Linked DNA regions of Homo sapiens. The protein of the gene in region 1 purifies or fractionates together with the protein of each later gene. This does not show direct contact. Each region holds a gene or a part of one and is shown on either strand. Other genes may lie near its edges.

Region 1 (7,033 bases):
GATGTGCTGCAATATCTAACCCACATGCCTCCTATGTATTGTTTTTATCTCATCTTTAACCTTGCTCCTGCTGACACTTTACATTATTTTGGCTAACACTGTGCATAGGATTGAAGTTGAGATATCATCATTATCAATTATGAAGCATTTGCTTATCAAGAGTCAAATACCCAACCTGACATTAAAATAGGCACCAGGCCGGGCATGGTGGCTCACTTCTGTAATCCCAGCACTTTGGGAGGCCAAGGCAGGTGGATCACCTGAGGTCAGAAGTTCGAGACCAGCCTGGCCAACATGGCGAAACCCTACCTCTCTAATAATTCAAAAATTAGCCGGGTGTGGTGGCAGGTGCCTGTAATCCCAGCTACTCAGGAGGCTGAGGCGGGAGAATCGCTTGAACCCAGGAGGTGGAGGTTCCAGTGAGCCAAGATCGTGCCATTGCACTCTAGGCTGGGCAACAGAGTGAGAGTCCATCAAAAAAAAAAAAAGGCACCATATGTGCAAAGCTAAATAAACACTGTCAACAAACGATGTGATCCTGTAATGAAATAGAGCTTCACATTGGATATGATCCTTGTAAAGTTGTCGACATTGATTCTGGAGGTGATTCTGAATCCCCGCTTTCCTCCCACCCAACTCTTCGGCAGCTTTCACACACCTGCAACTTCGGCCAAATGGTCAAAAGAATAACAAACCTCTGTAAAAGTCAATTTCACGTATTATCTTTTCTTCTCTATTGAGGTTGACTGTGAAGTGGTTCATGTTCTCATAGCCATGTTCTATTTTCTCCATCTGAAATGCCTTTGATGCTTCCGAGATTCTGCAACAAAGACAAGTTGCCACTTTCTGTCACTGTTGAAAATTGGATAGCCTTGGGTAAAGGTGAAAATATGCATTTTTACATAAAATAAAAAGTTCTTACTTTTTTAGCAGGGTTTTGGCATTCTGTGAAAGCAAACAAAAGATAGTCTTACTTAAATTATTTCCACAAAAGACAGTGGTAAGACAATTATTTCCTTTGTTGACTCTGAGAATCTCATAGCTTAGTTTCTAAATGTCATAAATAACTGCTGTCTTATAACAGAACCCTATTAGATTTAAGCAGTATCATAGACATGCTATTTAAGTTGTTTAAATAGATTAATATATAAGCACATGGGGTTTATATTTTAGTTGGTAAAATAAATAAAAACTGAAATGTACATAAAATAATAAAAATGTGATAACTAATTTTCCAACACCCACCTTTTGGGTTGTTACTTTGGTGCCAAAAAGAGACTTACCTGCAGAAACACTGCCATTTCTGGCTCATCCATAAACTGAATTCCTGACTCAACCAACTTTGAGACGTTCTCCAAATGATCAGAATACTTTTTGATCAGAGCACGGACATGTTCCAGTTTCTCCTCTTGGGTTCGGGTAATGACTTGGGTCATTTCATTCTTCCTCTCCTCCAAAATGCCATACAGGTAATCAAACTTCTCACAAAGCTCTTGTTTCTGTTTTCTGCAACATTCCTATTAGTTGGGTTAGCTAATGTTAGAAAGTATTTGAAACAAAGTCGATTTGGAGAAATCACCTAGTTATCCTGGGAAAGAAGAACATTTACTTATGTAGGATATTTTTTTCTTTTCCCTGAAGATGTCTATTTAGGTATGGATACCCACTATGTTGGTGCTTTGGAAATTCCATTTTTAACAAATTTGATATTTAGACTATCTAAAACTCAATTAAATTGGCTACATGAATCAATGGTTTTTCAATCTTCTGTTCTTTATAAATGGAGAATTTCATAGAAATAAAGAATGATTTTCTTTTATATTATATTTGGGTTACATAGGTTATAGGTTATATTTTGCTTTGGAGTGTGTGTGCATGTGTGTGCATGCAAGGAAAATACTATGATACTTCCTGGTTTGTACCTTAAAGTCTCTGCTCCACCTATACCAATATTGTCCTAGTTTCAGTCCTCCTATATAGAATTTGTAGCTTCCCAAAGGCCTCTGCAGCTAGGATTCCCTCCTCCCAGTCAACTTACACACTGCAACCAAGTTAATTTTCTCAGAGTACAGTTCTAATCATGTTTTTTTGTTCTTTCCTTTCTTTCTTCTTTGAGACAGAGTCTAGCTCTGTTGCCCACGCTAGAGTACAGTGGTGTGATCTCGGCTCATTGCAACCTCCGCCTCCCAGGTTCAGGCAATTCTCCTGCCTCAGCATCCCAAGTAGCTAGAATTACAGGCACCTGCCACCACACCCAGCTAATTTTTGAATTTTTAGTAGAGATGGGGTTTCACCACATTGGCCAGGCCGGTCTTGAACTCCTGACCTACAGTGATCCGCCCACCTCAGCCTCCCAAAGTGCTGGGATTACAGGCGTGAGCCACCGTGCCCGGCCTTAATCATGTTTTTTTCTATGATGACTCCCTATTACACAAAGAATAACACTTAAACTTCCTAACTAGCTTTCAAGACCCCTCCATGATCTGGTTCCAATTTCTCTCATAACATTCTACTATCCTCCATTGTATACCCTGAATTCCAGCAAAAATAAACCACTCACTTTCTTTGTTCATGCTTTCCCTTCTGTCTACAGTGTTCTTCCCCAAGTCACCACTGCAAACTCTATGCAATTTCAAAGACATTGTCAGACTACCACTTCTTCCATAAAGTGTCCCTTGATGTTTATGGCTGAATGCAACTTTTAACTTTCTGAAATCTCATAATAGTTACCATTGATAGCATATATCTGTATCTACCAGATCCTCTATTTATCCAATACTGCCTAAGAATGGGTAATACTGTATCTGGTCTATGCTCTTGGAGAGAAAGGCTGTGTTGGAAGTCTGGCTTGCACATTTGTGTTGTGTGGCTGAAGTATCTCCAGTACCATCCAGATCCCTTTAGTCTGGGCCCATCTTTAAATCATAATTAATTATCCAGTTCATCTAGTCATTGGCCTTTTGGTTTTTCAATCCCTGGTAAGCTTGGTGTGCATGTATGCCAATCTCCTTGGACTTGACCATCTCTGGGTCCAGGACCTTTATAGCTGAGAGCAGGTTGTGAGCCATAGTGATCTAACCTAGCTCTCCCGCACAGTGAGAGCTTCTTGGGAATCCAGCAAATTTATTTCTGACATCTCTGACCATTCTATACCCTTTATTACATATTCTTTCATTTTGGTAAACATTGAAGTCTTTTATGTCATGTATTGCTTTCTTCCTTTATGTGAATTTCTTAAATATCCAAAGTATATTTTTTTTGAGGGTAGAATCTGGGTCTGCCTAGGACACAGAGCACCTTGGATAGTAGCTGTTCACTAAATATCTGTTGAATAGATTTTGTGGTTTTTTTTTTTTTTTTTTTTTTTGAGATGGAGTCATGCTCTGTCACCCACGCTGGAGTGCAATGGCGCGATCTCGGCTCACTGCAAGCTCCACCTCCCAGGTTCAAGTGATTCTCCTGCCTCAGGCTCCTGAGTAGCTGGGATTACAGGCACATGCCACCTTGCCCGGCTAATTTTTGTATTTTTAGTAAAGAAGGAGTTTCACCATATTGGTCAGGCTGATCTCAAACTCCTGACCTCATGATCCACCCGCCTCGGCCTCCCAAAGTGCTGGGATTACAGGCGTGAGCCACCAATCCTGGCGGAATAGATTTTTTTTTTAATGTGTTTCATTTCCTCTCAATTTCTCTACTATTCTCAGTATGGAGTCAGGGAGAATGACCTAAACCAAATTGTTGATTATGAAGATACTCTGCAAATGTGCAAGAAATACATCCCTTACTCCATTGCCTTCCTTGGAACAGTCAATTCTCATCACAGTTCCCAACCAAATTATAATGCATGGAGATCCAGTGGTGCCAACTATTTTAATAGTAAATGCCTTACCACTGTCATCCACCCATTCATTCATGGATTTAACAAACAATGCATGTCATTTGTGTCAAGACTCTGGGGATCCAAAAAAGAATTAACATAGTTCCTATTCTCAAGGAGCTCACAGTTCACTGAGAAAGACTATAGACCAATAATGTAATTCAATATGGTAGGCTGAATAATGTAAATATTTTAGAGATTTATACCAGATGCTTTAGAAGCATTTATGGAATCTTTGTCCAACCCTTTGTGTAGGTGGAGGAACTTTGAGGGGAGCCAGAAATGTTGACTCAGGAAGAGTTTCTCAGAGGAATTAGTACTTGAACTTGACCTTAAGGAGGAATAGGAGTAAAGGAGGTTGAGGAGGGGATGAAAATGCTTGAAGTCCTAGCAGTTGTGAAAGTAATGGAACAAGGGCCCATGCAGCATGTCAAGATGTGGAAATTGCCTGGCTTGACAAATTTCCACTCATTTCCAGCCCTTTAGCTTGAGAGTCGGACTGTTCAACCAGGCCTAGAAACTGAAACCTATTAGTAGCTTTCCAATCAAACTCTCTTTCACTGTATTATCTTTTGTTCCAACCTTCAGGCAACCAGGTGCCCACTGTACACATGAAATAAGCCTCTCTGATATTTAGAAGCTCTACTGTGATCATATAATGGTTTCCAGCTTGTTTCTCCCAAATGAGTTGTGCACTTGAAACATTTATAATATGAGTATTATATTAAGATGTAATACAGGTAGAAAGTCTTTGATTCACAAAAATTTTCTCCTATGTGATTTAATATGTGAGAACATTCAAGTTTATGGCAGCCAAGTCATTTACAATGAGACAGATGTGAAGCATGTGTAATCTAGTGTACTCTCTCAAGTCAAATAAAGATTAAATCACTTATTTTGACCATATAATTTTTTTTGGCAGTTTAAATGGAATAACTAATTTCATTCCTATATTACTTGCAATTCCAAGCATTATTTTATTTCTATTCTGTTTTTTTAAATAACTTATATTGAATGTTAGTAAAACTACTATCATTTGTTTATACTTCATAGTGCAGGAAATGCTACCCCATATGCGGTCTATGCTTTATTAAAATTATTATATCATTAAATACTTTGTAAAGTGCTTATAATATTACCTGGCATATATTGGTACTGGATCAGTGTCTATTAAATTTAGGTACAAATTCCTTAACCTGAATTATTCAGTTGTGGAATTTTGAAGCTGCATGGAATATTAGAAGTAACCTGCTCCAAATCAATCATGTCACTCATGTGGAAACTGAAACCCAGCAGAGCTGTCACTTTCTCAAGGCCATCCGACCATTTATTATTGGTGCCTGGCCTACAGTCAAGGTCTTTGAACTCCTGGGTCATTGCTACTCTCACCACACCCAGCTGGGCCCATATTTTAAGTAACTTTAAAAAATTATATGAAGTGCTTGTAAATGGAATATATGCCTTTTAACAAATGTACTGGCCAGGTGCAGTGGCTCACACCTGTAATCCTAGCACTTTGGGAGGCCAAGGCTGGAGGTGGAGGCTGCAGTGTGCCAAGATCGCGCCATTGCCCTCCAGCCTGGGTGACAGAGTGAGACTCCACCTCCAAAAGAGAAAAAAAAAACAAAACCCAAATTCACTATGCTTAAGGTAGATTTTTTAAAGGCAAGGCATCTTAAATTGTTTCAGAATTATATTCCTAGTTCTTTCAACAAAATTCACCAACCACTGACTTTGTACCTGGCATTGTATGATCTAATAACCTGCCATAATTTTCCATTGTTTTGGAGAATAATGAACAAAAAAAAGTATCATAAATGATAAATATAAAATCATTATATTTTCTAATTCCTAATGGAAAAAACTTTTTTCTCTTGTTTAATTAGCTTTTAATATAATTCTATGCAAAAAATGGTAAGAGTTAGATAAATCTGTTTCTGAAACGGCAAAAATACATGCCTCTTCTTTGGAATTACGAAATTGGAACTTACAGACTTTTAGAAATTAACTCAAAATGTTCAGGTTAACCTAATGTCATATTCAAATGTGAAATACTCCATGAAATGAAGTCTCCTATTTTTTCACACTCTTTGAGGTAGAACCCACACACAAGAGACTAACTTAGATGTCCCCTAATCTTTCTTGGCTTCAAGACCATCAAAGTGCTGTGAAAGTCAGGGAACAATAAACACCTCAGGTTATCAATTTGCCCTCTAAGCTGATGAGGGAACAGATATGTGCCATGAAAAAAAAATGTTCTCAGAGGCCACCTAGCTACTGACAGTGATGACTCTGAATTTCAGTACCTACTGTGCCTTTGTTAATGTGAATCTGCAACACTTTCAGCAGTGACTTTCTAGCAGCCTGAAAAATGGAATAGGAAAAAATGTGGACTTTTGCATTGTGAAAACGTCTGCAGACAGAACACTTTAAAGGACTGTTGTTACCTACAAAAGCATGATAGCAACCATATTTGTCTCTTCTCCACAAAAACTTCCTCATCTCAAAGACTGCTCCTTGCTTTTAGCATACTTTTTCATTTACTTGAGTAAAAAGGTATGTATCTTTAAGACCAATTCGGAGCCATACACCTCCCCTCTTCTCTGGACAGTAATTCAATCAAGATATACACTTTTTGAGCTTTCGAGTTTATCTTTTCAAATAGTCTCCATTTTCTTCCTTTTGATGTCTGTGCTTCCTACATCCTCTGTGTGTGCACCTGTGTGAGTGTGCTTAGCAAGTGAAGTATACCTCCACCATAAATGAAGTAGGTATTGGTCTCCGGGTATACTCTGATGCAAAGCCTCTGGCTGCTGCACAGCCTTCCTCCTGGGTCTGCTAGGACAGTTATATTTCTTGGCTTCTTGGGAGAACCAAATTAAAGTTGTCTATAATATTTTAATGAAAATAAAATTCATCCCATTTCTAGGGAGAATGCAGTGTGGATGCAATATACCAAAAAGGGATGATTTTATAAAGTGAAGATCATCCCTCCCATATTGAAATGGTAAGATGATGATGGGTGGGATATTTGTTTCTAACCAATGCCAACATTTCTGGATGTAAAGAAAAAAAATCAAATGGTCATTTGGTTGTTTCCTTAGAAGTGAGTAGGTAACATTTAACATTGACCTAAAGCCATTGTTGAACTGTTGC
Region 2 (5,296 bases), on another chromosome or scaffold:
CTGCCACCATACCCAGCTAATTTTTATTTTTGTAGAAATGGTCTTGCACTGTTTCCCAGGCTGGTCTCAAGCTCCTGGGCTCAAACGATCCTCCCGCAGTGCTGGGATTATGGGCATGAGCCACTGCACCGTTCCCCAGTTGAAGTCTTAACAGGCCAAAAAAAAAAAAAACTGTGGAGATGGACTTAAAGTTCTTTATTTTAGGTCAAGGTCAGCATCTCCTCGACGATCAAGATCTATCTCTCTTCGTAGATCAAGATCAGCTTCACTCAGAAGATCTAGGTCTGGTTCTATAAAAGGATCGAGGTATTTCCAGTATGTAACACTTTTTTTCCTTACTTGTGTTTGGATTGTTCACATCTTATCAGTAGAGTGTCTTAAGGACATAATTCAAATGGATTGCTTCAGGGAATATTTGAGATGTAAAAGTTTGGAATTTATGTGTAACTTGTAACATAAATATTAACCTAGTTTTACAGATGAAGAAAAGGGCTACTAGAGATTTTAAGGCTTGTTAGGCCGTGTGGTAGACAAGGGTCCCAAGCAATACAGTTCTACTCAACACTCTGGGTAGGCATGTTGCTATAAACTTTTCTGGCTTCAGATTGGATGATACTAGCTCTGAAAGATGGTAATTGATTTTCCCGACAAAAAGGCCTATTAGCACCAGGAAAAGAGATCAGAAGCAAGTAGAAACATTTCTCATTTTTGGAATGATGGGGTTGATTTGAGACACTGGAAAGTTGACTAGGGCAGTAGTGTGTACACAGAAATGAATGTGGATTTTTTTTTTTAGACCGTTTCAGACCTGAAAAAACTAAAGAACCAGAGCTTTACTATTTGTAGAAGGCCTTAAAAGGAGATAGAATGGAAAAAATTGTAAAATAAGTATTGCAACATGTAATTAACAATATTGTTATCTGTACCAACGATAAAACCGTGGTACGGAATGCTACTGGGAGTTAAATTGCTGTTTAATAGCACAAAACCTTTAAATGCAGGAATTCTGAATCTTGTGGTCTATTTGAGAAAGCTATGAACCATCTCTTTAGATAAATTTAAAAGATAGATATGTCAGTCTGATTTGGTTTGTCTGACAGATTGATGGCTCTCAAACATAACTTGATCCAGGAATAAAGCCTTACAAATGGGGGGCGGCTTTCTTTTCGTCTGGCCTTATCACCTGAATTAGTCTCAGTTCAGGGGTCTGGTTATTTTCATCCTGCCTTAGCCTCCTGAGTAGCTGGGACTGCCATTGTGTACCACAGTGCCCAGCTGAGGGATCTGTGCCTTAAGTGAGGTTAGTTTTGCTTCCTTCATACCAGTCTCATCAAATGAAAACCATGTATTTCCCTTGGATATTACACAGTGTTTGAGAATGTTATACCTGTACAGAAACTAACCAATTGAGTGATAGAAACAAGTAATTGAAATGGGGGTTCCTTATGTCTGGTAACACTTTGTTTGACAGTGTGTTAGACAGAATAAGGCAAGTGTTGCATCTTGTTTAGTTTTAGCTTCTTTATGCCTGACCAACCTAATACAGTGTTGAGTAGTTAAGGAAATTCCTTTGGACTGATTGATATAATTGTGTTTTTCACTTTTTTTATTAAGATCCCCGTCGAGGTCAAGATCAAGATCCAGGTCTATTTCACGACCAAGAAGCAGGTAGGGTAAAAATTTGATTATGCTTTTCTAGTTATATGGCACCAATATCCAAAGAGTTCAAAGTGTTTTTAATTGTTGAAATTTTAAGTGTTAACTCTAAACTTAGGTTTTAGTGGGAACACAGTACCTTATTTGTGTATGTCCTATTTATTACTGGCTGACTTTCCCTGAACAAGGGAATGTAAAACTATAGTGAGAAAGAAGCTTATGACTTGGGGGATTATATTAAAGAGGCCCTTGTTAGAACTGATAGGTGCATGGAGAAGCATCCTGAAATCGATGTGCTTAAAGCAGAATGTAAAAGATTAATCATGATGTAGTAATTGAGTCATTTTTTGAAAAACAGTTGTTGAAAGATTGGCTTTTGTTAGCAACAACTGGTAGGATGTTTTTCAGTTTAAGTGCAGTCTGACATTTTAAGCTTAGGACATTTGGGGGTTTTACGGTATTGGTGACTACAAGAAAGGGATTGGTTAGTACTCTTTCTTTAATAGAATTTCTCATGTTTTGACAGCCGATCAAAGTCCAGATCTCCATCTCCAAAAAGAAGGTAAGCTAAATGTTTTGTTGCCAAATCTTGCCTGTCAAGTGTGGCCTCTGCAGAATTTGTTTGCTTACTGCTTTGCAGTCTTTGAGCTCTTTGGAGAATTGGTGCTATATAGATTAAAATACTATGCTAAGTTTCTGAAATACTTTTTTTTTTTGATTCAGTAACATTAGTTTATACTTTTGCTGGAAATACTTAGTCATAAAATGTTAGGGTGATTATTAAGATGTGATTGGTCCTGTGAGTACTTGGTAGAAATTTTGGTAAGATAGATGCCTTTTCCCCACATGTACAATAGATACAAAGTGTGGAGAAAAGTCTTGGAAATAGTTACCTGCCTAGTGCTTCTTTATGACCAGAAAACTTCAAATAGTTGTCATATTTATCTAGTGCTTCTTAATGACCAGAAGACTTCAAATAGTTGTCATATTTAACTGCAGGTTGACCTTGCAATTTTGACAAGGAGGATAGCCTAATTTTTTTTTTTTTCTGGGATGGAGTTTTCGCTCTGTCCCCAGGCTTGGAGTGCAGTGGCTCAATCTTGGCTCACTGCAGCCTCCGATTCCCGGGTTCAAGCAATTATCCTGTCTCAGCCTCTTGAGCAGTTGGGATTACAGGCACCCACCGCCAAGCCTGGCTAATTTTTTGTATTTCTAGTAGAGACGGAGTTTCACCATGTTGGCGAGGTTGGTCTTAAACTCCTGATCTTAGGTGATCACCTGCCTCGGCCTCTCCCAAAGTGCTGGGGTTACAGGCGTGAGCCACCGTGCCTGGCCAGGGTAGCCTAATCTTAAGCCAGGGACAAAAGATGAATATATGTAAGTTTCATGTCATTTTTAGGTCTTTGCTATAGGAAATTAGTACCTTAGGCCACCTTTGAAGTTATTGAAAGTTAGTACATGTACATGAGAGTTTCAATTGACACTAATTGGATCCAAACCTAATGTTTTTCTTTTTAGTCGTTCCCCATCAGGAAGTCCTCGCAGAAGTGCAAGTCCTGAAAGAATGGACTGAAGCTCTCAAGTTCACCCTTTAGGGAAAAGTTATTTTGTTTACATTATTATAAGGGATTTGTGATGTCTGTAAAGTGTAACCTAGGAAAGATAATTCAACCATCTAATCAAAATGGATCTGGATTACTATGTAAATTCACAGCAGTAAGATAATATAAATTTTGTTGAATGTATTAACATCATATGGTCTGAAAATGTGGGTTTTTATTTGGCACATTTAAATAAAATGTTTCTAACTAGATTTTTGATTTGTGTTCAATATTAACACTTCTTAATTTGATATATTTGAGAGTCAGACATTATAATTGTTAACCTTATTCATACATACCTACATTCAGAATTGAAAGGTGTTGGTTAAGTCTTGAACATCACTATTCTATGCATAAAACTTGGCCAGGATCTTAAGGGACTTTGAAAATTCCATCTTACCCTTGTAGCTCTGGGTAAGATGACCTGAGTCCCTTATGATACAGCCTGAATGCATCATGACAGATCCTTAAGTTAGCTAATCCGTTTGAAGTTGGTGTTAGTAGGTATTGTATGATCAGTGGTGAAGCAAGTAGGACCACTGATGTGTCTAAATGAGCATGACAGGAACTAAACGAAACTGATTAAATGTATGAGAAATAGAAACATTTCTGGATGATCTTTATACTAATTGCAGCTTTCAGGCTACTAGGTGGCATAGTGTTAATTAGGACTCCCCAAGATATGGGGAGTTCTACTCTCAATGGTCTTGTTTCTTTGCTTTCTACATTAGTTAACCAGTTTTATACCAAAAAATGCATGTTTGAGGAATTGTCTGAAATTGGGACAAAACACCTTCATGTAAACCAGCTTTGCAAAATTTTCCAGCCCAGATACTCTTCATCTATTCAAATGGATTGTCTTATTCTGAGCAAAGACCTGTTGTTAATCTTCAAGCTAGGTTTTGCAGTTCCCAACCACAACATTCTTCTATTTTGCCAGGCTGGTGCAAAGTAATTAAAGATGTCAATCAGAAATGTCAATGAGACTAAAGTGGTTTTGTAAATCTCAGCTATATTTAGCAACACTCCATGTAGCTAATATTTTTTGGTAGCATCTGGTAGACCTTAGAATGTTACATAGCCAGTAGGTTCTTTATTCAAATTTTAAGTATCTTAAGAATAGTAGGGCAGTAACAGTTACTTTTGAGAGTTTTCTGGTCAAGCTTTTACCAGGCATTCTCTAGCCTTGGTACAAAAAAAAAAAAACCTGCTGGTTGCGCAGATACCTAGGCTTGTCCATTTTATGCATTTCAGCAAAGTCATTGGATACTATTGCAACTTGGGAATACTGGTCTGCATCAAGTTTATTCGGTAGTTTGACCGCTAGTATGTTGGAAGTTATTTGGATTGTTTTTGGAATTTTGACTGGCTGAATTATGGTTGGTATAAAGTTATGTGTATAACTGGCAGGCTTATTTATCTGTTGCACTTGGTTAGCTTTAATTGTTCTGTATTATTTAAAGATAAGTTTACTCAACAATAAATCTGCAGAGATTGAACAAATAATCCTGATACTTAATTTTTGGAAGTGGGAGCTCTCAGCCAAAAGTAGGAGGCATTAATCCTGTAGCTTTAGGATGGGCAGCTAGTAGCGTCCTAGAAATGAGTATAGAAAGGATAAAAAGGTGTGGAGGAGGGGTAGGGGCAAAAATGGTTTTAAACAAATTCCAGCCTTGTGGGGAAAAGGGCTGTTTGGGCCAATACCTCTTAGGTCATGTGCAACTTGGCACCCGTTACTGATAGATGCATTTCAAAATAAGCTTTGGTGCATCCCCCCACTTGTTTTCTGTGATTGGGATTGCCAAATTGATTGTCACTGATTGGAAGTGCTGCTCCAGACTCATTCCTTCTAAACTAGCCTAGCACTGATGAGTAATCAGTCAGTTTTTATTTTTAATTTTTAAAATTTTTTTGCTTGGTGCGGTGGCTCGCGCCTGTAATCCCCCAGCTACTTGGGAGTCTGAGGCGGGAGAATCACTTGAACCTGATTGAATAGAGGTTGCAGTGAGCTGAGATTGCGCCACTGTACTCCAGCCTGG

Evidence for each region. The genes of interacting proteins can lie anywhere in the genome.
Region 2: the proteins of TRIM55 (region 1) and SRSF7 purify together in Homo sapiens (affinity purification with mass spectrometry; 2 studies listed by BioGRID, with this or other methods). This does not show direct contact.

Annotation. Positions count from the first base shown.
Region 1 is NC_000008.11:66,144,129-66,151,161, reverse strand, and holds part of TRIM55 (tripartite motif-containing protein 55), read right to left. Parts: intron 1,518-7,033; coding exon 1,284-1,517; intron 946-1,283; coding exon 923-945; intron 821-922; coding exon 696-820; intron 1-695. UniProt on the Homo sapiens protein: E3 ubiquitin ligase that plays an important role in regulating cardiac development and contractility, muscle growth, metabolism, and fiber-type differentiation.
Region 2 is NC_000002.12:38,743,066-38,748,361, reverse strand, and holds the end of SRSF7 (serine/arginine-rich splicing factor 7), read left to right. Parts: intron 1-204; coding exon 205-315; intron 316-1,614; coding exon 1,615-1,668; intron 1,669-2,182; coding exon 2,183-2,218; intron 2,219-3,174; coding exon 3,175-3,229; 3' UTR 3,230-4,763; downstream 4,764-5,296.